4 linked regions of the Homo sapiens genome follow. The protein of the gene in region 3 interacts with the protein of the main gene of each other region in a pairwise test. Each region holds a gene or a part of one and is shown on either strand. Other genes may lie near its edges. The genes, in order: KCNIP1, TAF1D, NHLH2 and MYF5.

Region 1 (8,333 bases), on a different chromosome or scaffold from region 3:
CAGAAAAGTCACTAAAGTAGTCAACATGGGAAAAATCCAAATTTGGCAGACTTCCTTAAACTTATTTTACTGTTTCTCCTTTGAAATGCCTGTGTAGCCCTTGGTGGGGTGAGGCAGGGCGGGGCAGTGGTGGGAGGACCTGATTATTTTAGTGTCAGGGCCTACAGGGCTTAGAGTCCTAATCAGCCCAGGGCTGGATGTATGCAAAGAGGGAAGAAGACAAGGGGAGCCCCTTGCTGCCCTGATTTCGATGGGTGGGGAAGCCTCCTGAAGACACCCCTGCTGAGTGCACAATTTGGACATCTGGGAGAGTCATACATGGGCGAATCCCAGAGATGGAGAGAAAGTGCAGCCTCAGCCACACGGATGCAAATGTGCCAGCTTCCCCCAGGCAGCTGGGAGCTTCATGGTCTCCACCAGAACATCCCTCACTCTGGGTCCAGGGTTGGCATGGGTGAGGAGCTGATGGGGCCAAGAGGAGGCTGTCATTTTCAGTTCCTGGGAGTTGGGAAACTAGCTGTAACTGCTCAGCCTCTTCCTGGGGCTCAGAGGCTTGCTTGTCCTGGATATGCCCTCCAGCTGCAGGCAGGAGCCCAGGTGGTGGAGTGCCTCGCAATCAGATCCACTTCAAGTCCTTGCTTACTAATCACTAGCCAATCAAGAACCTCCCTGCATCTACGTTTCCTACTCTGCAAAGTGAGAATAATAATGAAACCATTACAGGACTCCTACAAAAATAAAAAGATTACTTTTTTGGGGGATCCCCACCAACAGAGAGGTCCTACTAGACCCCCTGGAAAAGGCATTTGACTTTCATTCCCCAGGCCCTACCTGTGTCTGTTTAGACTCCTACTTTAGTCACATTTTCTGGCTTCAAATCCCACACAAAGGCTCTGTATGTAAACCAGGCTGCCATCCTGCTCTGGGATTCTGAACATTATCAGTGAAATCCATTATGCAGGCAAGTCTCTAGTTGCAGTCCACATGGCTCTGTCCTGCACCCTGTTCTGGCCCATGTTCTTAGAAGCAACTTAGATAAAGACCTAGAATGCCTCCTTATCATTTCTTCAGGTAGCAGAAAACTTGGAGGTACAGCTAAGATGATGGCTGGTGGAGTCAAGATTCAGGATCTCTGTTGGCTGGAATAACATTTAAAATGAGTAAACTAAAACTTAATGGGCGTACATCATCCTGCACTTCTTTGTTGTTAAAAAGAAAGAGAGAGAAAGAAAAACAGACAAGCTTGATTGCAGAAATGCAAATCTGGAAATCTGACTTCTTAACAATTTATATGAGATGACCAGGGCTGGGGTTCGGATGTCAGGCCTAACACTTGAGCTGTGTGATTGTGGGCAAACCACTCACCTTCTCTGGATTCTATTTTCTTATTTGTAAAATGAGGCTTAAATCAGAAGTCTTAGCAAAAGCCTCTTCTGGCTTGATATATAATTTTGTGTAATACAATACACATAGTTCCATAATCTGTACTTTAGGCCAGTATTCCTCAGACTCCAGTGGGCATATAAACCATCTGGTGATCTTGTTAAAATGCAGGTTCTGACTGGGTAGGTCTCACTGAGTTGAGGTTTTTTTTTTTTTTCCAAGATGGAGTCTCGCTCTGTCGCCCAGGCTGGAGTGCAGTGGCGCGATCTCGGCTCACTGCAAGCTCCACCTCCTGGGTTCACGCCATTCTCCTGCCTCAACCTCCCGAGTAGCTGGGACTACACGCGCCCGCCACCACGCCTGGCTAATTTTTTTGTATTTTTAGTAGAGACGGGGTTTCACCGTGTTAGCCGGGATGGTCTCTATCTCCTGACCTCATGATCCGCCAGCCTCGGCCTCCCAAAGTGCTGGGATTACAGGCGTGAGCCACCGCGCCTGGCCGGGACTCTGTATTTCTAACAAGCTCCCAACTGATGCTGAGGCTGTTGGTTGGAGGAGCACACTTTAAGTGGAGTAGACCCAGATAGTAACAATTTACCTTTAGCGCATTCTGAGTGCTGACCGCTGCATCTTACATGCATGACTGCATTTAATCCTCATAACAACCTGGGAGGGAATTATCAACAATACTTTCATTTTCTAGATTATGTAGAGATGAAAGTTCACAGAAGCGAGGTAACCTGCTCAATGTCACACAGCTAATGAGTTGCAGAGCCAGGATTTGAATTCTAGGTCTGCCTAACCAGGAGTGTATGCTCATAACAACCGTATAACATACGCAGGTGATTTGGGCCAACATGTGGCTAAGGAGAGAAAGGAGATGAGCAGTAAGGTACTTGCAAATGTACTAGCAAGTTCTTGTGTTTTTTTCTTAGCAGTGATAACCACTTGTAAACCGACTGATCTCCTTGCCCACCTGGACCGTGTGAAAACTCTGATCCTGGTCCCTGGTTCTGAACGTTTGCAATTCTAACATACTTGGAAGATATTTAAACACTCTATCTTCACTGACAGGCAATGATGGCTATAACAAAGAGAGAAAATTTTAGTTCACATAAATGATTAGAGCAGAGGAGAGATGTTTAATCCTATTAATGAATTTGCTAATTGGCCTTCTGCCCCCAATCATTTCATATTCAGGCTTCCACAGTGTCAGATGAAATGGAAACAGATCTAGGGGGAGGCGGGGTTGGGATGGGGCTAAAAGCATTTTGCTCAGGGCCTGCACGTAGCTCAGTTGTTCCGTGTGGCTAATGAGGTGCTTCAGTCTATCCTTGAATGCCTTCTCCCCAACATCCATGCACCCGTTTTGACTGTTTTTCTACTCAGGTCCCTAAGGTTCCAGAGGCAAAGCCAGGAGGAGAGGAGGTTAGTATGGCAGTTAGAAGCTCAGGGTCTGGGATCAACCAGAACCAGGCTCTGCGATTCCCAAGCTCTATGACCCTTAGTAAGGCACTTCCCTTTTTAGAGCCTCAGGTTCCTCAACTGCAAAATGAGAACTGTAATAGCATCTTGTCCTCCAGGGTTGGGGTTAATAAAATAACACAGGAAAGAGCCGAGCAAGGTGCCTGGCACTGGGTGGAGGCCAGAGTCATTTGAGCTAGTATTATTATCCTTCCTGGCGGGTGACCTGCATTTTCATACCTCACTGTTGGGAATTGCTTTTACCATCTAAAGTTGACAGCTTCCCTTAGGAATCACCAGAGAAACTGCTTAGAATGCCAGTGACCATGGATATGGTGGCTCGGGATCTCAGAGGGCTGGAATCAGAGGCCACAGCTCAAAGGGATGGGGAGATTACCAAGGGTAACACCGTCATCATCCAAGTGGAGCAAGGCAGAAGGAAGGGGCCTGTCCTGAGATGGGACAAAAGGCAGCAGCAAAGCCAGCACTGCCAACTCACCTGGTGTGCAGCACCATGTTCAATTCCTTCTTGGCCCTCACGTGGCCCTATAGGGAGACACTGTCATTGTCCCCATTTTTTAATTTTTATTTTTTTTGAGACGGAGTCTCGCTCTGTCATCCAGGCTGGAGTGCAATGGTGCAGTCTTGGCTCACTGCAACCTCCGTCTCCTCGGTTCAAGCGATTCTCCTGCCTCAGCCTCCTGAGTGACTGGGATTACAGGAGCATGCCACCATGCCCGGCTAATTTTTGTATTTTTAGTAGAGATGGGGTTTCACCATATTGGCCAGGCTGGTCTTGAACTCCTGACCTCGTGATCTGTCCACCTTGACCTTCCAAACTGCTGGGATTACAGATGTGAGCCACCATACCTGGCCCACTGTCCCCATTTTATAGAAGAGGAAACTGAGGCCTGGAAAGGCTCAGCTATGAACCAATGAAAGGGAGTTCAATCCCAAGACTCTTATTTTAACGCGGTGCTCATAGCCATAATGCAATCCTACTTCTAGCTTCCTGATTTGAGTGGAATGTGGTTCCTACTTCCCCCCACCGCACCAATGAGGCTTTTAGTCTGGCCTTGAATAACAAGATTTAATCCAAAGTACTACTCCCATGGCTGGGGTACGGGAAGCTAGCAATATCCCAACTGACTACCACTACTTCCAGAAGGTGACCTATTTAAAATACTACCCGGAGGAAGGGGAAGCATTTAAAGAGATGTTTCTCTGAAGGCCCTAGGACTCTTAGGCTCTCTCTCTCTTTTCTAAAAACTGTTCCTTCCCTGCCTGATGAATGGGAACATCAGCTCCACGGCCATTATGCAGAATTTTGCAGAGCTTCTCCCCAGGAGCAGACCTGGATTCCTCATCTGCACCGCCGCATTCTCACACCGCTCAGAGCCATCAAGAACGCACACTCTGGCCCATCCATCCTTACCTCCATGCCGCCAGCATCCATCAAGCCTGGATGCAGTGTCAGGCCTGACAGAGGCCCTGGGATAAGACTCAGTGCCTGAAAGCTAGTCAGAGAGATAAATGTGTAAACCCATAATGACAACCTCATAGTGTGTTCAGAATTGTAGTTAAGGGAAGCAGCAGCAGCTATGGGGAAAGAGAGAAGGCAGAGATGTGCTCTGCCTACAGAAGCCAGGAAAGGCTTCCCAGAGCGGTGGCATTGAATGAGGCCTTGAAAGATAAGTAGGAGTTGGCCAGGTGAATGAGGAGATGGAGGAAGAGGGAGGATGAGGAAGCCAGAGTGGATCTTAGGCAGGGAAGCAATGCTGAAGGACAATTGTGGGACTGGCTAAGTGAACAAATAAATGAGTGGATAAATATACAGATTCTGATCTCACCCAGGCAAGGGTGAACGAACCTGAAATATAAGGGAAGACAAGGGGAATCACTGTGAGTCAGTCCCTGCTTTTGTTTCAGCAAAAGAGTGAAAACTTAGAGACATCTCCTCACCTTCTCCAAAGACACTATACACCTACCAGTATCCAAAAAATTACCAGGACTCTTCTTGACTGAATTTATATTTTTCAACTTTGGGGAGATGACTATCAATGCTCTTTGTGAAAAGATAGGCTGTTAATTATAGCTGTTCTGGCACTTCATCATTCATTCATTTATGGACATATTCATTCATTCATGTGGTCATTTATTCGATCATTCTTTCTGTCATTCAGTTGATAATTCATTTGTTGCTTCATTCATTCACTCCTTTACTGCTTCCCCCATTCATTCAATCATTCATCTTTTCACTTATTTGTTAAAGCATATGCTCACTTATTCACTTACAGATTTACAAAGCATTCATGGAGCAAGGCCCTTCCAGGCAGACAAAGAGGTCTAAGCCTTGGCCCTTTTCCAGAGACCAAGTCAAAACAATCCCACTGATTTTAGGCAGTAAGTCCTTCTCCTCTGTCTTCCATTCTTTTCCATCTCTCTCTTTCTGTTTATCTTGAGCTCCATTGAGCTTCTTCTGGGATTGAGGGACCAGAACTGTGCCTGGTGCTGGGTGTGGGTTCCTCATACCTTTGTGATTATGAGGGAGTGGGAGTAGAATCACTGTTCTCAGCACTTTCCTGCTAAATGGTAAACAGATTCGGTACATTTCATGGACAAAGTCAATTCAAAGCCAGCAGACCGAACAACAGAATTCATTCCTGGCAGAGGGCTGGTAACTGAAATTCCGGTGGGAAGCTAACTTTTCCTGCAGGGTCTGCAATTCTAGCAAATAATGGAGAGTGGCCAACCATTCCATTATTTATAGTTTACTCTAGGAAAATTTTTATTAAGTACCTACTATGTGCACAGAACCAAGCAGAGAGTTGTGAAGGATGAGTTAGACGAGCTCCTACCCCCAAGAACCCTGACCTCTGGTGGTGGGGAAAGGGGGTTAACACCTCCGTTGATTGTCTAATTCCAAGCGCGATTGTGAGTCATAAGAAAATGTACACCTTAAAAGAATATGGGAATTCAGATGGGAGAAATCACTTCTCTCTGGGGCTTGGAGAAGGCTTCCTGAATATGGAAATTGCTGAGTGAGGTCTTGGAATGTCGGTGGAATTTTAACTATTAGACAAGGCAGCAAGGGGTGGGGTGGGAGAGCATTATAGAATTAAAGGGACAGGCAAAGATGCAAAGATGGGTAAAGACCAAAGCACAAACATTTCTATACATCAGGATTCTCCTTTTGCAGATAAAGAAACTAGCATTTACAAGGTGAAATGACTTGCCAAAGGCCTGCCCCTTGGGCTCAGGACTATGTGACAACACGGCTACTGCTTCTCTATGCCTGTCTGTCTCTTGTCACTCTCCCATATCTTTAGGTTGAAAATGCTGCCCTGACCAATAAACCCTAAACCCAGTCTCATCAGGTACACTCTGCTTCCATAAGTTCCCTGAGGTGCTCATTGATCTAGGAGCAAATATGGGACTATCGGGAACATTCCCATGTTTGGCCCTATATTAACCAGTACCCTATTAACTCACCGTGTGGCCTTAGAAAAAGCATCTGATAGCCATGGGGTTGAGTCATAGCTCACCTATGCTATGACTATTCTGGAGATCCGAAGCTCAGCCCTTTCAGAAAGTTCTGCATGCTTGCACTCGGTCATGGAGGATTTCTAACCCAGCCACCCCTGTAGTGTGGGATTATTTGCTTCTAGGCAATTCTCTGTTGAGATGGCCTTGGTCTAGTGATGTTGTCCCTAAATTCTCCTGCCCCGCTGACAAGCCCAGCAGCTGCACCTGTATGGTCCTCCTCTGGTTCTCCTCAATGCCCTAGCCTGTCTCACTTACCCATTCAAGGCCAGGAGCAGTGTCCTTGGTGTGTCATGCACATGCAAAACTGCTAGAGTCAGAAATTCTATCTGGGACTGGGATGCAGAGGCTGAATCCCAAAAGCAGGGCTCTCCTACTTTTAATTAAAGACACACAAAGATCCCAAACAGAGAGAAGGACAGGAAATGAACCTGAATATTTTTATTCAGTGGCATGGCTCTTAAATTACTTTAGATTTCTGTTGCCTTTAGAGAGCGCTCCCTGAACACCCAGGTTGGGCTGGATATCTTCTTGCAGCACTAATCATGCAGAGTTTTTGCCCTATTTAAAAACTATGTATGTTTCTAAATTGTATTATCAAGGCATTCAGGATTTTAATTGAGCAGGCTTTGATGTTTTCAGGACAAGCCACAGAGTAGAGGTCAGTGAGGGTTGAAGCAAGGGACGAGCATCTGTGTGCTGGGGTTTTTGGTCCTAGTTATCTGGATAGGGCTGGATAAGGTTTCCAGAAATGAGCTGTTAAGGCTCTCAGATGTACTGCCTACTTCGAAAATGGCCTTACTCTGGACATTTGGAAGCCCCAAACAATAGAGCCATAAATTGAATAGTACCTCAAATTTGCTGACCACTTATGTAGCAGAGACTGTGCTAAATGCTTGACTTGCATGATCCTTGAAATCCACACAACACAACAGCTATTTTAAGATGGTAACTACTACTATCTCTGTTTTATAGTTGAGGAAAACAAGGCTTAGTCATACAGCTAGTAAGTGGCAGAGCCTGAATTTGAACCCAGCAGGGAGACTGATTCCTGAGTTGAAAAATCCCAACTGCTCTCTTCCGGTTGCTTCTAATTAGATCTGAGCCTCACGTCTCTGAGATCATAGCAGCAGCTCTGGTGAGAGCATCAACCATAAAAATATTAGAATTTGAGAACCAAATGGAACCTGAGGAAATGCCTAATGTAAGTTTCTCCCTTTACAAAGAAGAAACCGAGGCCCCAGTGGGGAAAAGTGACCTGGCCAGGATAGGCTCCCTGACCACTAGCCTCCTCAGCCAGGGCTTCCTCCAGGTTTCCAAGCTGCCTCCCATAGAAGGGTCTTCTGCTGATTAGCATTCCACTATGCAAGGCAGTGAGATGACTGTGCTTCGGGGGCAAATACCTGGGGGAACATATGCAGCTGGACCCCTGGACAACTCACGCCAGTGGGCTTTGTGCAGGAAGGGCTGAGTGCCCAGTGCTTCGATAGCTTGTCTTGGGAGTCCACCCATTGGCCCCGAACCTGCTATGAGCCTCAAACGAACATTGTTGTGAGGGTTAAATGAGAGTTGTTGATAAAACACCGAGCATTATGGCAAGCACACAGTAGGGACACACTGAATGCCAGTACCCCCTCTTCTGTTTCTTAGAATCCGAGGAGACAGAAGCAAAGACCTTTGTACTCTGGGAATCCTGCAGGAATTCATCCAGGGTGAATTCCTGGATGTTTGGGGCAGGAGAAGGAAATGGTAGACAGCAATGTCTGAGCTCTTACTCTTTTCCCAGCCCTATGCACGGAGCTCCCTATTCATCATTCATTTGATTCTCACATCCTTACAACAACTTCCTCTGGGTCCCTGGTGGCTGCAGCCAACACAGTATATGAGGCAGAGTCTTCCCTTCCTCTACTTCCTACATACCCTTCCCTCCGGGAAGTAGCATA
Region 2 (4,762 bases), on a different chromosome or scaffold from region 3:
AGCCTCCAACTCTGCCTCAGCCTCCCCCCTTTCTGAGTAACTCCAACTACAGGCACATGCCCCAGTACCCAGCTAATTTTTAAATTTTTGTGGAGATGTGTTTCTTACTTTCTTGCCTAGGCTGGTCTTGAACTCCTGGTTTCAAGCAATACTCCCACCTTGGTGTGGGGATTGCAGGCTTGACCCATTGCACCTGGCCTGGAACCAACCTTTATGGCTATCAATACTCCCATCAATCAACTGTCTCAGGTATCATAATATCCCTTCTTATATGTATCAAAACTCATACTGAACAATGAGTTCTGGGTTGCAAAAGAGGATTTATTTTTTGCACCTATCTGTAAGTCTTTGTCCACGTTAAACAAAAACATACATAAGTGCAGTCCCAAAATGCACTACATAGCAGAGTAGTCAGCTCTATCGTGGTGATCAAAATAATGAACATCGGGGTAATGACTGGTTCTCCCCAGGTATACATGTTGAATAAATGTGTATGCCTTTTCTTGAACTAATAAAAAGTGAAAATGGTAGTTAAAAGTAGTATTAGGCCAGGTGCCATGGCTCACACCTATAATCCCAGCATTTTGGGAGGCCAAGGCAGGCGGATCGCCTGAGGTCAGGAGTTCGAGACCATGGTGAAAGCCTGTCTCTACTAAAAAAACAAAAACTAGCTGGGTGTGCTGGCTAACGCCTGTAATCCCAGCTACTAAGGAGGCTGAGGCAGAATCGCTTGAACCCGGGAGATGGAGGTTGCAGTAAGCCAAGACTGCGGCCATTGCACTACAGCCTGGGTGACAGATCGAGACTCTGTCTAAAAAAAATAGTATTAAAGATACTCTAAATTTGGAAAGGGAAATGAGGTTATTACAATACTAAGCATCTGACAGGTCACTTGTCATGGCTGAACAAAGCTGGGATAAAATTACAGCATTTCAAATCCCCTCTTCAAGATGGTTGGGTGTCAAGTTACTTTAAGATTTTCTTTTCAAAATTAAAATCACTACATTTCATTGTTTCAATACTCACAGGACACCTGTAAGCTCTTATTCAGAAATCAAATGACAATTTCTCAAATTTTTCTATGTATTTTCTCTGGTGTTTTAATGGTTTTTTTTCTAATTATTACTACTTCACAAGTTTCTTTCACAAACTTCTTCACAGGGTTAAAAATTTTTTTTCTTGTTATAAAGTTCTGGGTTTCAGAATTTCTTCACCACCAGACTGGTACATATATCCACATTTATCTTTATTCATTTCTATGAAGTCGTTTTTTCTATATGCTTCACCTTTGACATTCATGATCCTGTCACATTTTCAGGCCTCTCTGTCCAGTATTTTTGGCTTTTGTAGCTCTCTTTTTAGACAAAGCAGCTTCTTCAGTAATATCCTCTTCTTCTAAGTATACACTCAGTCTTACAGGGAATTCAGAACTTACTATGAAACTATCCCCCTGCATAAAACAAACAAAAAATCATGGATTAAGCAATAACTCAAATAGTTTAGTAATTACATATAGCTGAATGCCCTGGATTACTTCAGATAACCTAGAGACTACATGTAGATGTTAAAAATCCAAATTAACATTGCTTATTTTTTCATTTGACATCCTAACTAGCAATAATATGTATCAGAATGCTACTTATTAAAAATAGTACTGAAAACCCCATGTTCTTTATCAAGTCTCTAAAAAATTATTTTCCTTCTTGCATTTCCTGCAGTAAACTTATAGAGCTTTTCAAAAGTTAAATGAAGTGTAAGAGAAAAACTAAATATAATTCCTTCTGTATCAACCAACTCCTGCCTTCCCAAAATGGAATAGGAAAAAAATAAGTCACTTACTGCCAATTTGATATCACATTCGTTATCTTCAAGATGTGTTGCATCCTCATCCTCTGCTCTGTAATATTAAAATTTATCATCGAGATGACAGAATCTTCGATGACCTAATTAGTTGTATATTCCACTCTGAAATATAACTGAAACTGCAATACTAGTCAAAGGAAACACAAAATTTGAGAATTTTGTGTTCTGGAGAATTCTAGATGAACGGTGTGCCAAGCTTGGCTCAACTGTAATAATCCCAATTGTCATACTCTGTATCTTTGTTCATTATTTAAGTATAACTATATTAAAGGCAAAATATGAAGCAATTAACATAGAAATTTAATTTATAACCTATTACCAAAGTATTTCATATGATTCCACTTACGTTGACTCCTCAATAGGAGAAATGGATCCATCATCATCCAAAAATTTGTATCTACGACTGTCAAAATCTTCATTTTCTAAATCTTCACCAACATTCATTTGCTTCAATGATTCTTTCAGGTGGTGTTCATACTTCAGTTTTTCAATATAGTTAAAAAATCCTCTTGCAACAGCTTGCTATATATTAAAAACACCATAAGTATGTCGAGATTTTATTTTTAAGACCCAGCAGGTGCCTATGTTCAAAAAGGGCAATGCCCCCCCTTAGCAAAGACTCTGAATTTGCTATCTTAACTACTCCCCACTTGTGGACTTATCAAATGCTGATTATTAAAATTCACATTACAATTATGAATTTACCTAAGCTGGTAACATGGAAAAGTGAAGTACATATCTTGTCATGTCTGGGACTTACTAAAGGCATTTTAAAATGTAAAAACAGGAATAAGATTTCTAATGTTTACTATAATCACCTTAAACTTAAGAGATTAACTGAAGAGATTAACATGTATTAATCCTCCCAAATAAAATTTCAGGTTCTGGCAAGGGATCATAAATTAATTCTGAATTCATTCAACATACAACTCTCAAATATTTAAAAAAGTCTACTCCTAAGTATTAGCGTATTTTTCAGATAATTGGCTTAGAAACATCTAGGCCTTAAGAATATATCCACTGAACATAAGGCATGTGTGGTTTTAGTTTAGGTTACTGCAAAAGTAATTTCAAGTTATGTGAGCTTTTATTATCCCCACTGAGTTTTAGGGTTGTGTTTAAAGACCTGAGATGGGATAAGATCAAAGGATTTTATACAAAGAGCCTTGGAGCACTATCTTTTAAATATGGCAAAGTGTAGTTATATTAAGAGATACAAGTCAAGATTCAGTTGAAGGATAGGGTGGACTTTAGGGGTAAGTCAGTATAGAAGAGTATCAAAATTGCAGACAGTCTGTTCCCAGTATATCTGAGACAATTCTAAATTGGCCAACAAATCATTTTGGGCATCTTGAGTTATGTGTAGCCATGTATGTAAAATGCTGACTCACCTCAAACGTTAAAATTTTTCTCCAAGGTGCGTTTTTTTCATTCTCTGATTCTAAAAATGGGAAGCCAGATCCTCTGCTTCTAAATTGTTTCTTCTTATCTATTAGTGAGTATATAGGATTTCTCCTTCCTTCTGGTCTTCCCCGTGGTCTTCCTGTTGGCTGGTACCTCCTCTTTTTCTTTTTTTTATATCTCTTTTTCCTGTTCTTGAATCTTTCAAAAATAGCTTTTATAGTCAATGGTATTGGTTCAAAAGATGAGTCACTTGATGAATCACTTGCGTGAACACTTTCAGGTGTACGAACAAATTTTCGAATGGGGTTTCTTTTCTCCCCTTTAGGTGAGTAAGGGATACACTGAGTTTTAAATAAGCTGCTATCAGAAGAGTTATCACTAGAAAAATGGGAAAAAAATTAATTTCATCTTCTTTTCTTACTGCTTATTACCATTAATACCCAGTCCTAAATGTACATTTCTTCCAAGACCAACTCAGAAAACATGCCCAGAATTAAAAATTTTTTAAAGGATGGGCTCAGAACCAGCTAGCCTTTCTACTGATCATCCTATTTAAATAGCCCATAATGCTACAGCTCTTATTAAAGAGTTTTGTAGACATCGTCTTGCTGTCACCCAGACTGGAGTGCAGTGGTGCAATCACAGCTCACTGCAACCTCAAACTCCTGGAAACTCCAGGGATGCTCCTGCCTCAGCCTCCCAAGTAGCTAGCTAGGACTAATGGCATGCACCACTATGCTCAGCTTACAAAAAAACTGTATCTTTCAAGACAATGTATGAGCTCCAAAAGGCTGTATGGTTCGGTTCACTGCTAAGAGTGTCTGAGTAAAACAAACACAGCCTACCGAACCGGAGGATGTAGTCTGGAAGAGATGCTAATATGACCCAAAGAATACATTTTTTCTCGACGAATGTGTCCCATAATATATTCACATTTTGAATTTAAAGTATTTGCAATGCTATTATATCAATCTATGTAACTAGATAAACTTGGAAGGTCAGTGAAATCTAGTTTTCCTTCTTTCCCAATTCCTGAAAATTATCTTTACTGTCACTCATTATATACAATAGTTTCTCATAATTCAGATACAATAAACATGATTGAATCCACTCACCTTCGATTTGCAAGTTCCACAGCATCAGATGTCACATGGTCAAGAGAATCTATTCCTGATTTATCCATCAATTGCTCTTTGTTTTAAACAGTTTTCTGAAATTATGAAATTTAGTAAATATGACAAAGCTTCCCTAAATATTGACAGTATCTACTACAGTGTTGAACGTGGTCAGACTATGCCAATGATTTCAGGCGAAATCATTTACCAAGGTTAAGCTTCTTATCCATTTCAGATCAGTTTCTTTAAAAAGAAATCCAGAAATTCTATTCACAGGTTCTTTCAGTTGTTACCCTCTAAATGTATTCAACGCAACAAGATTCCAAAAAAGTACCGTCCCTTCCAACAAAAGCATCTTTCAATATAAGTAAAAAATGTAG
Region 3 (8,335 bases):
CCCCTCTCTCCAAAGCCAGCCATAAAACCTAGAAATAGTATTCTAACATTCTCCCATTTTTCTGTGTAAGAGCTGACCATACAGAAATTCTCTGACCTACTCTGTCTGCAAGTAGATTATAAGACCCTCATTCTAAAAGGGGTCTTGCACTATCCCTGGAAAAAGGAATGCCACACAGAGAGACCAAGTAGAATCTTAACAGGCAGGCTTTCCTGGGTTTCCTCATTCAGTCTGTTGCTGTAAGATCATTCCCTTTTTGTCCAGTCGCATTTCTGCACGGCTATCCACTCTGCATCAAATCTAGGCATAAAAATGGACAGTTTTCCTTTGGATCTTTGGGTCTTCATTCTGAAGACTCCTGTGTCATGTAAAACTCTGATTAGATAAATATGTTATGCTTTTCATGTTAACCTGTCTTTTGTTAAAGGAGTGTCAGCTGTGACCCTTATGATGGGTGAGAAAAGACATCACGCCCTTTACCCACTACAGTGACATAAATATCACACATTATGTCTTCTGAATTTTCTAATAGCTTTATTGAGATATACTTAACATACCATAGTTAAGGCACACAGCTCAATGTTTTTTAGTATATTTACAGAGTCATGAAATCATCACCAAAATCTAATTTTAGAATATTTCCATCATCCCAAGATGAAACTCTGCTGATTAGCAATCACTCCCTGGTACCTTTCTTTACCCGATCTTATCCCTGCACAGCCATTAATCTACCTCTGTTTCTATAGATTTGCTCATTCTGTACCTTTCCATATGAATGGAGTCACGCAATATGTGGTCTTTGTGTCTGGCTTCTTTCACTCAGCATAATGTTTTTGAGGTTCATCCATGTTGTCACATGTATTAGTACTTTGTTTCTTTTCTTGCCGAATAGTAGTCTATTGTATGGTTATATCACATTCTGTTTATCCATCCATCAGTTGATGGACCTTTGGGATGTTTCCACTTTTTCTTATTTTTTTTTAAATTGACAAATAAAAATGGTATACATTTATGATGTACAATGTGATGTGTTGATATATGTTTACACTGTGGAATGAGTAAATCAAGCTAATTTACATATCCATCACTTCACATGCTTATCATATTTTGTGATACCATCTGAATTTTTGTATTACATCTCTTTCTGCTATATCAGCCAAAAAACAGATTCTAAATAAATTGATCTTAAAACCAGATGATCAAATCATTATCTCAAAGGGTTAAACAATGAGTTTAACAAAATTAAGCTTATTGCTCTCAGAAGTTATACATGATCAATAAAACCTTATGCTGTTAATTGGTTTTTGTGCTGTTAATAAATAAAATTAATTAGTTTATTAATATTATTTTTAAGTTTATCATATATTTAATAATAAATATGAATATTTAAATTTATAAATGTATCTATTGATAAATACTTACAAATTTTAAAATAAATATTTTTATCATATCTTTGCTTATCTTTTGTATATCATAATTATATAATATACTAGTACAGTAGTACATGTACAAAGCTTATACATGTACTACTGTACTAGTATATTATGTAGTTATAATTGGGTATATACATATAAATATACATATACTCAGTATGTATGCCCTAAATTTTTATCTATGGGGTACAAAATTTTAAAAAATAGGTTGGAAACAGATGTCTCATAAAAGTAACAAATAATTACAAAGCCTTTGTAGTCCAACAGTATCTGGCAAAGCACTAGATGTGCAGTAAGTATTTAAACTACACTGACACTGTGTTAGTCCATTCTCATGCTGATATAAGAACATACCTGAGACTGGGTAATTTATAAAGGAAAAATGTTTAATTGACTCACAGTTCCTCAGGGCTAAGGAGGCCTCAGGAAACTTATAATCATGATGGAAGGGGAAGCAAACATGTCCTTCTTTACAAGGCAGCAGGAGAGAGAAGAATGAGAGCTGAGCAAAGGGGTAAGCTCCCTATAAAACCATCAGATCTCATGATAACTTACTCTTTTCATGAGAATAGCATTCAATTACCTCCTACCCGGGAATTATGGCAAGTACAATTCCAGTTGAGATTTGGGTGGGGACACAGCCAAACCATATCACTCACTAACCACCCCTGAATGCAAAGGTGGCCATTTATCTAAGTTTTGTGTGTACGTGTATTTCTCCCTTGCCATATGCATTTTGGTGAATAGTTCTGTGTGAGTATATCTGTGTAGGATACAATGACAGAAACAGTAGTACTTTGTGTCTGAGAGTGCAGTTTCTGAATTTAGACCACCTGAATCTCTATCTTAGCTCCATAATTTATTAGCTATGTGACCTTGAGTAGATTACCATCTTTTCCATGTCCTAGTTTTCTTATACACAAAATCGGGACAACAGTACCTACCTACCTCACAGGTTTGTGGTGAAGGTTAAATAAGTTAATATGAGCAAAGTCACTATACCTAGGTCTGACACATGGAAAATGCTCATTGTAGTTTGGCCACCAGAGCTATGGACAGACACACACACACACACACACACACACACACACACACACACACACACACGGGTGAGTATATCTGGATATGTTTATTTTTCTATGTCAATATATATCTGTTCCTCAATATGTATTTATACTGAATAATAATAATAATGATAGCCAACACTTACTGAACATGAGTTCTAGGCATTAGTTTAAGCACTTTACATATATTATCTTGTTCACCTTCAGAAAAAAACATGACATAACATTACATAACATGCTTTGATTATTCTCATTTTACAGATTAGAAAACTAAGGTCCAAAAAGGTTAAGTAACTTACAACTAAATTCACACAGCTAGCATATGACAGAGCCACAAAGCCGGACTTTTTAAGTCACTACTTATCACCTCCCCATTCATTTAATAATATTATTTAATATTACTCTTATAGTCTATAATATCATAATTTGTATGGTGCTTACTATTTCATCAAATATTTTCAAATACATTGGGTCTCATAGCGAGCCTGTGAAATGAGAAGTGCAATATTATTATTCTCATTTTTACAGGAAAGAAAATTGATAGAACTGAACCATGGGTGTCCTTTAGTGGAAGCGTTTCTATGTTACAAATATCTGGGGTACCTCTGTACATAGAGTCACATCATAAATGAACTGAGTACCTATAATGTGTCAAGCTCAGACATTAGTGCTGGGGATATAAGCTACAGACCTCCCCTGGAAGCATCATAGCCTAGGAAGAGAGACCAGTGTGGTAACCAAGAACCAAGAATCACGGTACACAATATGTAGTCTCTAAGGGAGACATGAAAGGAGTGCTTATGGAGCACAGAAGGAGGGGCCATCTGTGCCAGGGAGGTCTTAGAAAAGGCAAAGGGGTGGGGGAGGGGGAGGCTTTGATGGAAGAAAGAATGTGTGTGTGTGAATGTGAATCCATGTCTGTGTCTATGACAGTGTGGCTAGGCATCACTAAGTATGGATCTGAGTGTGTACCTGTTTATACAGGCTTACTTCTGTAAGCATTAATTTTTGTGTATGCTGGCTGCTGGTATAGAATGAGTAAGCCTGAACATAAAAGGGAATTTGTCTGGTATCACACACACCATAGCAGAATTGGACCTGCCCTGATAGGCACACCCTGTCATGACTCCCCAACACCAGGGGAACCAGAGATGCTGGTCCTTTCCCACTGTAGCAGCTGCCCACTCTAGAGCTATGGTGATTAGACCCACCAGTTTTTTTCAATCCATCAGTATGGATGTGTGGTGGTCTAATAGAGCCAGCCAGCTTGTATGATGAAGGGGGAGGAGGTACAGGTGTCTGTGGGTGTGCATCTGTGTGCACACTTCTGGTTGTGTGTGAATGCTTAGCATTGGCTGTTCCTAACTAGAGTGAGAAAACCTCCCTTCTCCCTTCATTGTCACCACCTTGGGGTGTTTATCCACTCACCCATTTCCATTGCCACCTGTATGGGACCGGCTTCCATCTTCACTTTAACGTTCTGGGGATATCTAAAATATACCTCTGTGCTGGGGTTAGGCAGAAGCAAGGCTGGGGAGTGTTGGTGCCCTTATTTGTTGGAGGCACTCCCTCCTTTCCCCGACCCCTGCCCCATTGTGGTCCAGGAATCTCTCAAAGGAGCAAAAATGTGGGCAAAGGCAAATAGTACTTGTGGAAGCCATGAAAAACCCGGAGGGTCACTCCCAGGGGTGGGCTGCTCAATGTGCCTCCCCTGGTGATAAAATCTGCTTTTAGGGCAAAATTAAGGAAGACAAGTGAGGACTCCTCTCTCCACAAATGTTCCCCTAGGAACTGGCGGGGTGGGAGTAAGGCTGTAATGCTCTTTTATTTCTTTAAGCTTGTATGATCAAAACAAGCTAAAATAATCACAAATAATATGTTATTGATATTAACTATGAGTATCTTCATAAAGTGGCAAAATAATTGAACTAGATTTTATTTTTTATTATAAGGTATACAAATTCAGGGCCATGGGATCATGTAAGGCAAAGGCATTATGTACTGGGACACACTGGTAATTTGTGTTTACATCTTGGCACAAGCACTGCCACGCAGTACAATATATTAGCATGTTAAGATGGGCAAGAATGAAGTGCAATAATCAACACATGTAGCATGTCATATTTCAGCTTGAATGAATGAGTGGGTGGAGAGAAAAACAAACATACAGAAAAGTAGAATTATCTCATGTCGTGGTCCGTGAATATGTGGATTCTCTTTCTAGTTCCACCAATGGCTTAATCTATTGAAAGGTTCTTACCATCTATTGATAAGTTAGTCTCATAGCAGATCATTTCTCAAAAATGTTAATATGCTTAATCAAACCTTACTGAAGTATCTTTTAAAATGTAAATGATCTCTAATAAATGTTGGCTGTTGCATGTCTAAATACTTTATTGCAGCATCTTATATAGTATATATTTCCATGTTCTGGACACAAATATTTTTCTAAATATTAAGGGAAAGTGGTGGCTTTGTAATATGCCAGGGGAATTCTTTGATAGTCAATATATTGTTTATTTGTACTTAAATATTTCATCAATAATCTGGAAAAGAGAAATAGCCTGACTACGGCTAGATACTGTTTAGAGGCTAAGATTTCTATCATGAACTGCTTTTCAATTGTTATATTTTATGGCACAGATTCAGTGGGAATCTGATCTGCTAAAATATTTGGGCTGTGAAAACTCCCACACTGTGACAGATGTCAAGTCCAATTAAGTGACTCATGTCCAGGTTTCTGTCCAATAGGATTTCCCATTAAATATCAATTTAGGGGAAAAAAATTCCATCCCCCTTCCTAAGCCTTTATCTCTTCCACCATCTCCAGGCTGAATCAATTGGTACCAGGAGAGCCCAGAAGCCACACACGCATCTCTGCCTCTTTGCTCTGGCTCTCCCACCCTCTTCCCGTCTTTCTCTGCTTCCTTGTCACTGTTACTCCAGGAGACGTTCACTTTTCACCAACCTTTCTCCAAGCATCTCCAAGCCACTGACTATATATATTTTGCTACAAGGTAAAGAGAAGAGGGGCTGGGGACGGGGGATATAGCCAAACCTTGAAAGACTTTGAAACTGGAAAATAGGTGTCTATTTATACAACATACAAGTAAGTGAGGGAAGAGGAAGAGGCAACCTTAGCTCCTAGTTACAGTATTGTGTTCCTGGGAACTGGGGAGATATCAGCTGAACAAAGCCTTATCTCAAAAAAAAAAAAAAAATCACTTCTGAGCAAGATCACATCTCTGTCCTGCACTTCCCAGTTTCTGCTCAGCCGTATTAAGGAAAAGAAAGGCATACGATAGGAGCGGAATCTTATCTTAACCATCTTTCTTATTGATTATTCCGCTATTAGAAAGTGGAGGAATCAGCCCTTTGATGTGATTGTGTTTATCTCTGCATCTCTTTTGTTATTTTTAGAGACCTAGAAGAGGAAAAAAGGCACGAGACTTTTCAACACATCGTTTAAAAAAATCATCAACGAATTTCTTGCAATGTTTGAGAACAATTAAAAGGAAAAAGCGTTTTTTAAAAAATCTATCAACTAAGTGAACAATCATTCATATCGTCTACATCCTGAGATATTATTGTCCCTCGCTGCGGACACCAGCGAGATGACAGCTGCTTTTTCATTTTTGAATGTAATAAATATTTGCTGCTTTTAATATTTTCCGGAATCTCCCCTCGCTATTCCTTGGAATTTTAACTCTAAAGATTGGAGAACAGATTATCAAAAAGGCTTTTGCAAGGTAAGACTCCTTTAAATAATTTTTTTCAGCTTGAAATAAGTTAGATTATTCATACTGTATCTATAGATGCAGTTCATTCCATAAAGAGATAAAACGCATACACGGCATACTATTTATGAATATTTTTAAAGATCTAGAGGAGAATTTAATGTGCTTTGAGGGCAACCCAGGAACTTTTTACCAGAACTACAACTATTTAGTGGCTTATTGTGATTTTCCATTACTCGTCTATTTATTTCTGCCCTTTCAAGCTGACTGTGTAGGTGCAAGTTGTTCTACTCATAAACGTACCCGAGAAAAGCCCGTAGGGAGTCACATGCAGCTCTCTGGGAGCATTTGTTTTTATTTTGCCGTAGAGGACCTGATTTCCTCGCAGGGAAATTAAAGCTGTTTTGGCCCAATTCGCTCCTCTGCAAGTGCGGTGCTGGGAACCGATCACCCATCCCCTTGCTTTTGTTTCTCTAGAAGCAAACGCTCCTATACGTCGCCGACGCGGATTTCTCCCGTGCCGAGCGTCGTGGAGGCTGCCCACGCCGGGGCCCCGAGTTCTCAGCCTGGTCCTCACTCCCGACGCCCAGGGGCGGTGCGTGCAGCCCCTGCAGGGGCCTTTCTCCTCCTGCCGGGCCCTTTCTCGAAGCCCGAATTACCCGGAAGCCCAGCGGTTCTGAGCGGCCCCCTCCCAGAAGGCGCACAGTCCGGGCCAGTGCTCCAGGCGCCCCAGAGAAGCCTGGCCAGGTGGCGTTTCCAAGAGGGCACAGTTAAGTTAGAGGAAGGCTAAGCACCGACATGCCCGGACTTGGCCAGGCCACCCGGGGACAGCTGCAGCCTGCCGAGCTCCGGTTCCGGGAGCGCCCGAACTTTGCCGGCAGAGATGCAGCTCCCGCCGGGACAACACGCGCTGCACCCGCTAGTCCCCGCCTGCCCCGCCCCGGGCCCTTCCCTTCTCTTCCCTTCCCTCTGCATCCTCTCCTCCCTCAGCGGCCCGGCTGCCGGCATTTTCCCGCAAGGTGGTCGCCAGACTGCCGGGCGCATTGTCTGATCCCACGTCGCCGTGTCCCTAGGTCCCCTATGTGTGTGGCTGTCTGCGTGACAGATGGTGCTCCGGGAGCCTGCGAGGGCATCGGAGTCAATTTTCTTTTTAAAGGCTCCCCCACGTTTGTTTAGTCATTTCTTTACGATTTCGGAGAAGCGCGAGGGGTCCAAGAAGCCTTCCCGCCCCCAGCCACTGGCTCTCCGCCTGCGCTCCAGGATGGGGATTCCTGACCGGCCGCACCCCAGAGCCAGGCGCCCCCGGCGCAGCCCCAGACCAGCGCCAGGCCCTCGGGCGCCGCGGCTGCCGGGTTGCTTCGCCGGAGGCCCTCGGGGCGAGAAGTGCACCCCGCGTCTCCCCGCCCCCGTGAAAACCCAGATGTATTCGTTGTTCGAAATCGCTCGTTTGTCCGGGAAGGGGACGAAGGGAGGGAGGAGGAATAGCGCGGTTGGCATTTGGCCGGAAGAGGCACAAAAACCCAGTCGCGACCCCACAGGCCTGCGGTTGTTCCCCAGGCCCAGGGCCACAGGCCCGCTGTGGCCGTCTGCAAGTCGAGGTGTCCAGTCTAGTATGCGGCCTGGGTCAACCGCGTCCCCGCCGGCTCCCGCGCCAGGGCGAGGCGCAGGGCTCGCGCCCTCGGGCCAGATCCTATCGGCGCCCTCCCGCGTCGCGCGCCGGCCTGCTGTGGGGAGGGGGCCCGGGCCGCGCGTCCGCTGGGAGGACCGGCGTGGTAGGCCTCGGCAGCCATCCTTCCAGCAAAATACCCTGATTCCTTTTACTGATTAATTTTCCGACCCCTCCTCAGCCTCCAAAATGATGCTGAGTCCGGACCAAGCAGCAGATTCGGACCATCCCAGCTCGGCGCACTCGGATCCGGAGTCCCTGGGCGGCACGGACACCAAGGTGCTCGGCAGCGTGTCGGACCTGGAGCCGGTGGAGGAGGCCGAGGGCGACGGCAAGGGCGGCAGCCGAGCCGCGCTCTACCCGCACCCGCAGCAGCTGAGCCGCGAGGAGAAGCGCCGCCGCCGGCGCGCCACGGCCAAGTACCGCTCGGCCCAC
Region 4 (8,656 bases), on a different chromosome or scaffold from region 3:
TTTTTCTTCTAGTAATATTTTATCCCATTTTGTCGTTTCAAAATCGCTCTCCCACAACACCATAGCTGGAATTTTTTTTGACATTTTTTTTAAGCTTTGAATATCTAATTGCCTAATCCAATGCATTGATAAATTATCAATAACATAGTATTTTCTCAAAGAGCCAAACCACCAAGCTATTTCTCTGACAGGCCCCTCCAGTCACTCCCTTAAACTATTACACTTATAAAAGATGATCCTCCATCATAGAGGTTTCACTCTGAAAAAAGCAATTTTTTTGCAAGCCTAGTTCAGAGTCAGTCTGAGATGGAATGGCTATGCCATGTGCTGGAACAAAGATAATGCTGTAAGAACTGGCTACTTTCTGTACTCTCAAGGCTGCTAAATGTCCTTACTTAGGCCTTTGATCTCTCCTGGAAGTCCTCTAATTCAAGCAGAGGCCAATGTCTTCCTCAGCTGTCTTCACAAATTCTTCCAGCAGCTCTGGCAGGTACTAATGTGTTTACTTAGGTGTGCCTGATTCCCAGAGCTAATAGCAATTTGCAATTGTTGAGCACATTGTGAAGTCATCTATAATATAAAAAATATCAAGAACAACTCCCTTAGTCCAGGAGTTGATAAGGATCTGCAGGCAGGGGCAGAAGTGAATTGGAATGTATGTATCCTTCTATATGTATTTGGTTTCTCCCTCCAAGAAAAGCATAGAGAATTTTCAATAATGCAGAAAGCCTAGGGTGGGCAAAATTTATTAGAAGAAGAAGGTATGAGCATCATTTTGCTGGTGTGATCTGTCCATCAATATTAGTGTGTTGCCATAATGCTTAAACTAACACAGATTTCACTTAAAAAAAAAGTTGATGTTACGTAAAGGTCATTGCAGTTAGAACCTGGTTATAATTCTAAATTGTAAGAAAATCAAATGTATTTATTTTTTCAGAATATAAAATGAAATAAATAAATAAATAAATACTTCACCAGAGCCTTAGTGGGTATCCATTTATAGCACCAGAGGTGACTGGGTTTTCTTCCCCTCAACTACCTATGGTTAGACTTTCCTAGCAGACAGTGTTGGAGTGTCATTTCTAATAACCTGTTTACATATGAAATAAATGTGCGTTTTCTCCGCAAGCAAGAAATCCACTTCTTTGCAGAAATAGTGGAAAACTTATTTTCATTCTTTGTGTGAGGAGCAAAAGCCAATCTAATCCGACTTTGAGTACAAAAGGGTGCCCTGAGTAGATCTTTTCAGAGCCATTTTTAAAACTTTTCCCATGCTTCCCTGGCCAACCCACTCAAAAAAAAAAAATGCTTTTCTCTATGTTGCTCACCCAGTTCTTTCTTTTTCCCCTTCCAGGTCTCCCCTGGGAAAAGAGCAGGGAGACCGCTCCTGAATTGGGACACTGTAGCCATCTTTGTGGTGCTGGCTGCCTACTGTCTTAGCATATTGCCTTTTTTTTTTCTCTCTCTCTCTCTCTCTCTTTCTTCTCTCGCCCCTGACAGCGTTTTAAAAGTTTTGTCTTATTTCTTTTTACTTTGGTACTCTGAGATCCTATTTTCAGCACTTGCGTCCCAAGGGCTCTCAAGTCCGGACCCTGTTCTCCTGCTAGCAAGTCCCATTAAGCCGCCGGGCGCTTGTGTTTTCTCGGCTTCTTTAGTTCCACTCGCTCGCGGCACTCTGGTAACTTTGTTTTGAGATCACCTTACCAGAGACAGCTCTAACCTCTGAGAACTACCCTTACTGACAGAGGCTCCTGAGTGACGGCGTCTTCCCAGGCACAGGAGCCAGGGAAAGATGTTGAGTAGCCAGCTTTTGCGAGTTTCTGCTCTGGAGCCCTAAGGAAGCGCACGGAGCCTAAATTAATTGAAGAAGAAAACAAACAAAATCACCTCTAGGAGTAGGAACTATAATGACAGGATGCCTAGTTTCCAATCCTGTATGACCTTGGGGCAAATAACCTAGTCCCTGGAGCTCGAGTTTACTTTCTTTCTACAATGGGCCCAATAATAGCTCCCACAGGGTGGTTTGGAGTATTAATTGTTAAGTTAATCTAAGGAAAGGGTTGAGAACAGTGCGGGGCAAATAGAAAATTCTCAATAATTGTTAGTTAAAAATATTTCGCGCTGAGGGGCTTGAGTACAAATCACGTTAAGTGCTTTCAGAAATTAGCTGAAAGATGAGCAGAAGCGTAACCTCTAACTTTCACTCAAACTTTAAAGACCAAGTTTATTTGTGTCCAAAGCACAAGTCCGAGCTAATTTGTGGACTCCACAGCCAAAAAAATAAAAAAGTGGTCATATGGCTGCTAATAGAAACTGTGGGACTTGGCTGAGAATTCCTGGGGGAGGATATCTACCCACTATTGTATTTCAGAGGTAGCAATGTGCTTTGCATTTGCTGTGCATTTGAATGTTTCCACCAGCGTGGATGGCATCTTAGTTTCCACCTGGGTTCTTCTTGAACTTGCCTCTTTTTATCTGGCGTAGCCCTGGATACCGTATTCATTTCAAAGGCATAGACTTGTTAATAGCCCTAAAAAAGGTGCAGATGGATTTCCCACTGGTCAGATGATTAAGCAGCCCATTGGTGTGAGAGGGAACCTGATTTTCAGGAGAGATCTTTTTCTTAGAGATGACAGGACAGAAGAGAGGAGACAGCAATGGTGTGGCTAGCAAACCTTAGTGACTGACAGTGTCACTCTCCCACCTCTGGTTTTCAAGGTCTTCACTTTAGAGAGATCGCACCCTGAAAAGGTTGCTACTTCTCTGGCCCCTGAAGATGCTGGATCAATGAACCAGTGTTGCTTTAAGAAAATAATTCTGAAAAAAAAGTACAAAGTACCATTCACTGAAAGAAATAATAATAATAATAGGAAGGAAAACTCCCTCCTCCTCGCAATAACTTCGGAGCCACTATATTTATTGAACTGGGTTACCCTAGATTGAGTTGAGAACACTCCTGCTTCTTTCAACGGGGCCACAAGACCTAGTCCAAAACCCCAAGACTAATTGTGTAGACCTTAAGTAATTGCTTTTCCTAAATATAAACAGCACCTCCCCAACCCAAATAACCTGAAAGTGGATTAAGGTTGGAGGAGGATTGGTAAAAGCTGATTAATAGATTCATTCCCACTTAAATGACAACCCTCCCCTCTTGCCTTCTATCCATCGAAGTTCTAAAGACCCTGCTGTGATTGCTTTTCTGGAAGGCTTTTGTCACTGAAGTGTGTGAAGTTACTCCTGGTTTGAGGAGTTGGAAATTTTACACGAGTCAAGGATTGCAGTGGCGGCAGCTGGGACGCATCTGTAACGGTGTTAGTTTGCCTGAAAGCAGAAAATTAGCAACCCCAAAGCCCAGCTTGGCTGTTTAGTCTGTAGAAATGACAGGGCGGAGCAGAAAGAGAGGGAGAAAGGAGACTCACCCCTGGAAAGGGAGTTTGCCGTCGAAAACTGGGCTTCTTCTGTTGGAAATCTTAGAGACACTTTCAGTGCAGGTCTTTGGCCTGCTCAGGATCTAGGGAAGGCCTGGCACAAAGGAGAAGGTGCTCAACAAATACGTACAGAAGGGGAAAATGAAGGAAGCAAGAACGGGAGGAATGTTCCTGGTCACCTGGCCCTCCTGTGCCCCACCTCCTTTTAGATGAGCAGACATACAGGGAGAACTCAGAGCAAGCCCAGTCATGGGAAAAGGAACCTCCCTCCCTACTCTCAATAAGGTAGAGCCTAGAATAAATGACAATCTGAGCAAAACTTTACTCATCTGAAGCTATACAAAATAGATTTGGAAAGGCAAACCCTGTATTCACTCCAAGATTGAAAATGCCACTTCAAGTTTTTAGTAACCGTTATTCAATCCAATTGCTGGAAAAAGTTTTCGAGATAATTGAAGTTCATGAAAAAGAGAAACAAACACCCCCAAATCAGGTGATTCCTCACGCCCAGGATTGGGAGGGCAGGTCGGCTCTTGGTGCCAGCTGAAAGGGATTTCTATTTATTACCACTATTTTAAAATGTGTGTCCAATTGCAAAAAGTTGGACTGCCTTGGTCACTTTTGTGTGAAACACTCCTTAAGTGATCCCTTGTTTTAGCCTATCTAGAGAGTGCAAATGAGCAGGTTGGGGACCCACTGCCGCCCCAGCAGAAATACAGTAAAACCATTAGCGTCAAAAGGGGCAGTACACAGCAGATTGTCTGTAGAGGAAAGGCGGAGGTTTGTCCAGACAGCCCCCGCGGGGGTTGCGGTGGGATATGCTAATAGTGCCTGGCCACTGGGGCCGGCCTCCCTCCCGAAAGAATATATAAAGAACCCCAACCCCAGCTTGTCTACCCAGGCCAACAGGCGTCTGCCCTTGTTAATTACCGGAGCGACAGACTAGGGAGCTCCGCCCGGGATTTGCCCATCGGCGGAGGCGCCAGGCTCCCGTTTCTCCCCATCCCTCTCGCTGCCGTCCAGGTGCACCGCCTGCCTCTCAGCAGGATGGACGTGATGGATGGCTGCCAGTTCTCACCTTCTGAGTACTTCTACGACGGCTCCTGCATACCGTCCCCCGAGGGTGAATTTGGGGACGAGTTTGTGCCGCGAGTGGCTGCCTTCGGAGCGCACAAAGCAGAGCTGCAGGGCTCAGATGAGGACGAGCACGTGCGAGCGCCTACCGGCCACCACCAGGCTGGTCACTGCCTCATGTGGGCCTGCAAAGCCTGCAAGAGGAAGTCCACCACCATGGATCGGCGGAAGGCAGCCACTATGCGCGAGCGGAGGCGCCTGAAGAAGGTCAACCAGGCTTTCGAAACCCTCAAGAGGTGTACCACGACCAACCCCAACCAGAGGCTGCCCAAGGTGGAGATCCTCAGGAATGCCATCCGCTACATCGAGAGCCTGCAGGAGTTGCTGAGAGAGCAGGTGGAGAACTACTATAGCCTGCCGGGACAGAGCTGCTCGGAGCCCACCAGCCCCACCTCCAACTGCTCTGATGGCATGGTAAGCAATAGATCTGGTACCTGCTAGGCTACCCTAATCTTTTCTAAAGTCCTTACACCTCATTTAACCTGGTGTGGTGGGGAGAGTGGGGTGGAGGCAGATGCTGAGTTGCTTTAAAAGAAGAGAGGGGTCCACATTTAGAAAGACTCCCCAAACCGCTGCTGAACAAGATTTTAGTTTAACTTTCTAGCAGGTTCTAGGTGTACACTGTAATCGAGTGTTGACATGGAAGATGGGTGGCTGTGAATGATCACTCAGATGTTTTCTCCATTCCTGAATTTATTTTCAAAATATGCCATCTGTGGATCATGCCCTACGCTAATATCTAAAGGCACCGTTTCTAACTTAATGAGGAAATGGAAAGAAATACCCACACGGCCCCAGTTCCTGCTCCAATGAGGCCTGGCTGAAAGATGTTGATGCATTCTTTTTAGAGGGCGTTTGCTCCAAGGCTGCCAGGTTTTAATGTGTTTTTGCCCTGGGAAAGTGTTCTTTCCCTGAATTAGTGTGGCTTTCTTCTACTCCAATCCATTTTGCATGGTTAACCCAATGCACATTGCTGCTGAATTCCACCCCCTCTTCCCTTTGCTGCTGCTCTCCTCTTCTTCAAGCACAGAGATTGACCTCAGTGCCCTGGGAATTTGGAGAGGGCTAGCCCTTCCTAAATCAAGGCAGTGAAGGTGATTGACAGTGTTCGGTTACAGAGCTGGTGGGCAAGCACAGCCTCACCTTTGGTCAGAACATCTTTTGCCAAGACCTGAAAACAAACTTTGTTGTGTGTCTTGTATTATAGCCCGAATGTAACAGTCCTGTCTGGTCCAGAAAGAGCAGTACTTTTGACAGCATCTACTGTCCTGATGTATCAAATGGTAAGAATTGATAACTTCACAGGAGTTTAAAGACCAGTTCAACCTAACAATTCAGCCTATAAGATTCTGTTCTTGCTGATAGTATTGGGGAAGGGAGAATGGAAGTGATGGTTCTTATAGGGAGGCTTTGGTAAAGCAAAATAAACACATCTTCTGCTCCAAATCCCCCTAGCAGACACGCACGCACACATGCATACACACATGCACACACAATGTTGCTTGAAATATTATCAGGGGGCTTCCCCACTCCCCACGTCTACCCCTCAGGAATTGCCAGATATTTGTTGCAAATTTCTATGTTAGGCTTTCTGTGACCACCTGACCTCTGGGTGTCAGAGGAGCTGACCTACAATTTAAGGAGCAACATAAGCAAATCTGTCTATCTTGGGCTAATTATTTTTTAATGCTTTTCTCCTTGTATCCTTAGTATATGCCACAGATAAAAACTCCTTATCCAGCTTGGATTGCTTATCCAACATAGTGGACCGGATCACCTCCTCAGAGCAACCTGGGTTGCCTCTCCAGGATCTGGCTTCTCTCTCTCCAGTTGCCAGCACCGATTCACAGCCTGCAACTCCAGGGGCTTCTAGTTCCAGGCTTATCTATCATGTGCTATGAACTAATTTTCTGGTCTATATGACTTCTTCCAGGAGGGCCTAATACACAGGAAGAAGAAGGCTTCAAAAAGTCCCAAACCAAGACAACATGTACATAAAGATTTCTTTTCAGTTGTAAATTTGTAAAGATTACCTTGCCACTTTATAAGAAAGTGTATTTAACTAAAAAGTCATCATTGCAAATAATACTTTCTTCTTCTTTATTATTCTTTGCTTAGATATTAATACATAGTTCCAGTAATACTATTTCTGATAGGGGGCCATTGATTGAGGGTAGCTTGTTGCAATGCTTAACTTATATATACATATATATATATTATAAATATTGCTCATCAAAATGTCTCTGGTGTTTAGAGCTTTATTTTTTTCTTTAAAACATTAAAACAGCTGAGAATCAGTTAAATGGAATTTTAAATATATTTAACTATTTCTTTTCTCTTTAATCCTTTAGTTATATTGTATTAAATAAAAATATAATACTGCCTAATGTATATATTTTGATCTTTTCTTGTAAGAAATGTATCTTTTAAATGTAAGCACAAAATAGTACTTTGTGGATCATTTCAAGATATAAGAAATTTTGGAAATTCCACCATAAATAAAATTTTTTACTACAAGAAATATTTTGGCTCATGATCTTTTAAAATAACACCCCAATGGAATTACTGTTCATTGACATGAAATCTTTACATGTGAGCTGAAAATACTTAAACAGTTGGCTTTTCAGATAAGTCTGAATATTTACCATTCTCATGTACCCAGTTTAGGTCCTGTTGATGTCACAAGTGAAAATGTCATATTTTCATTTTAAATATATTTCAAGTGAACCTGCTAAATGAAACTTTTCCTTTATCTTAGAACTGTACCATATACTATCAAGTCGTTTGTGTGTGAAGGGAAGATAGAGGTTATTCAGGACAGTAACACATGCTTTTTTAAAAAAGACTATACAACATCACATCATTTTAATAACTATAGTACAACAGAAGGCATGAGTTAAATCATATTTACTTTTACTACCTGCCTGAAAATATCTTGATAATATATACTAATATTGTCAATAAAATATTTAAAGGTATTGGGCTGATTTTTTTTATATTGCTAGAGTGCCAACATAAGAAAACTTACACAAATTATACTGAAGTGAGACAGACTTGAGTTTTCTTCCTTCTTTTTACAGCCTTTTAAACTTTATTGTATTAATCATATCATGTATGCGTGTGTGTGCATGTGTGTATGTAAAACAGACTTGTCTCATATTCATCACCCTAAATCTCCTCTAGAAAGAACTGATATGAAAAAATTGAACAATTAAGTGGAAAATTAGGTTGAGACAATGATTGGGATAATTATCACAAGTTTACCATTGAGAGAGATTTTAAAAAGAGATTCTTAAAGTATCTAAAGTAGCTATTCACAGAGAACAAATATTGATAATTGTTTAATCCTCTTATATGTACATTGATTTAAAATTCCTAAGGATTTGTGGTTACATACATTAATTTAAAAAAAGCATACAGACTCTTTACTAGAGCTTGGCAATGCTACTGTTCTCAGGAAGGTTTCTCTTTCTCTCTGGTGTGATTTGCTCATGCTTATGCAGTCATGAAGCTTAAAGGAATGGGAATCATTCCATAAGGGAGGTATAAGGGCTGAGTTAAAAAATATGATGGCCACTGTCACTCTGTTAGCATCATGGCCTGACAGGGAACGCTGACTTTTAGCACACAGATATAAGTCTTTACTCATGATTTCAGAGTGTGAGGATTTTACATGAAAAGAATTCAAGAGGGCATGATAGAGATTTGTGTATATGTCCAACATAAGTCTGGGTTATCCACTTTTGTTAGAAACTGTGCTAGGTACATTTTCTCCTTTTGATACTTCTATGGAGACATTGGAGATTTGTTTTTAATAGGATCAGACAGGAAAAAAATTCAAATATTGGTTTAGTTTTTTAAACTTCAATTTTTAAACACATTACCATATTTTGTTTCATTTAATATAATTAAGCAGAAAATATGAAATTTTTGGTTCAAATGAATGAAAATTAAACTTTTTCAAATCAAATCTCAATTGCTTTATAACTTTGCAAGCATACCTAATATTCTCAATGAATATGATAATGATAATTTGAAGTAGTTAGAGCCTTTTCAGTGGTCTGGATATAATACAAGGGGTGGTTAATGTACAA

The links.
Region 1: the proteins of NHLH2 (region 3) and KCNIP1 interact in binary tests that used the Homo sapiens proteins (3 or more experiments, as listed by UniProt).
Region 2: the proteins of NHLH2 (region 3) and TAF1D interact in binary tests that used the Homo sapiens proteins (3 or more experiments, as listed by UniProt).
Region 4: the proteins of NHLH2 (region 3) and MYF5 interact in binary tests that used the Homo sapiens proteins (3 or more experiments, as listed by UniProt).

What each region holds. Positions count from the first base shown.
Region 1 is NC_000005.10:170,506,319-170,514,651, reverse strand, and holds part of KCNIP1 (A-type potassium channel modulatory protein KCNIP1), read right to left. Parts: intron 1-8,333. UniProt on the Homo sapiens protein: Regulatory subunit of Kv4/D (Shal)-type voltage-gated rapidly inactivating A-type potassium channels. Regulates channel density, inactivation kinetics and rate of recovery from inactivation in a calcium-dependent and isoform-specific manner.
Region 2 is NC_000011.10:93,734,855-93,739,616, forward strand, and holds the end of TAF1D (TATA box-binding protein-associated factor RNA polymerase I subunit D), read right to left. Parts: intron 4,478-4,762; 5' UTR 4,451-4,477; coding exon 4,383-4,450; intron 3,646-4,382; coding exon 3,255-3,645; intron 2,386-3,254; coding exon 2,210-2,385; intron 1,898-2,209; coding exon 1,840-1,897; intron 1,451-1,839; coding exon 1,307-1,450; 3' UTR 713-1,306; downstream 1-712. UniProt on the Homo sapiens protein: Component of the transcription factor SL1/TIF-IB complex, which is involved in the assembly of the PIC (preinitiation complex) during RNA polymerase I-dependent transcription.
Region 3 is NC_000001.11:115,838,127-115,846,461, reverse strand, and holds the start of NHLH2 (helix-loop-helix protein 2), read left to right. Parts: upstream 1-5,335; 5' UTR 5,336-5,514; intron 5,515-5,758; exon of another isoform or gene 5,759-5,917; 5' UTR 5,918-6,246; intron 6,247-8,081; 5' UTR 8,082-8,089; coding exon 8,090-8,335. UniProt on the Homo sapiens protein: Transcription factor which binds the E box motif 5'-CA[TC][AG]TG-3'. Involved in regulating energy expenditure, body mass, voluntary physical activity, mating behavior and reproductive longevity, acting through the hypothalamic-pituitary-gonadal axis.
Region 4 is NC_000012.12:80,712,589-80,721,244, forward strand, and holds MYF5 (myogenic factor 5), read left to right. Parts: upstream 1-4,323; 5' UTR 4,324-4,475; coding exon 4,476-4,976; intron 4,977-5,769; coding exon 5,770-5,845; intron 5,846-6,272; coding exon 6,273-6,463; 3' UTR 6,464-7,083; downstream 7,084-8,656.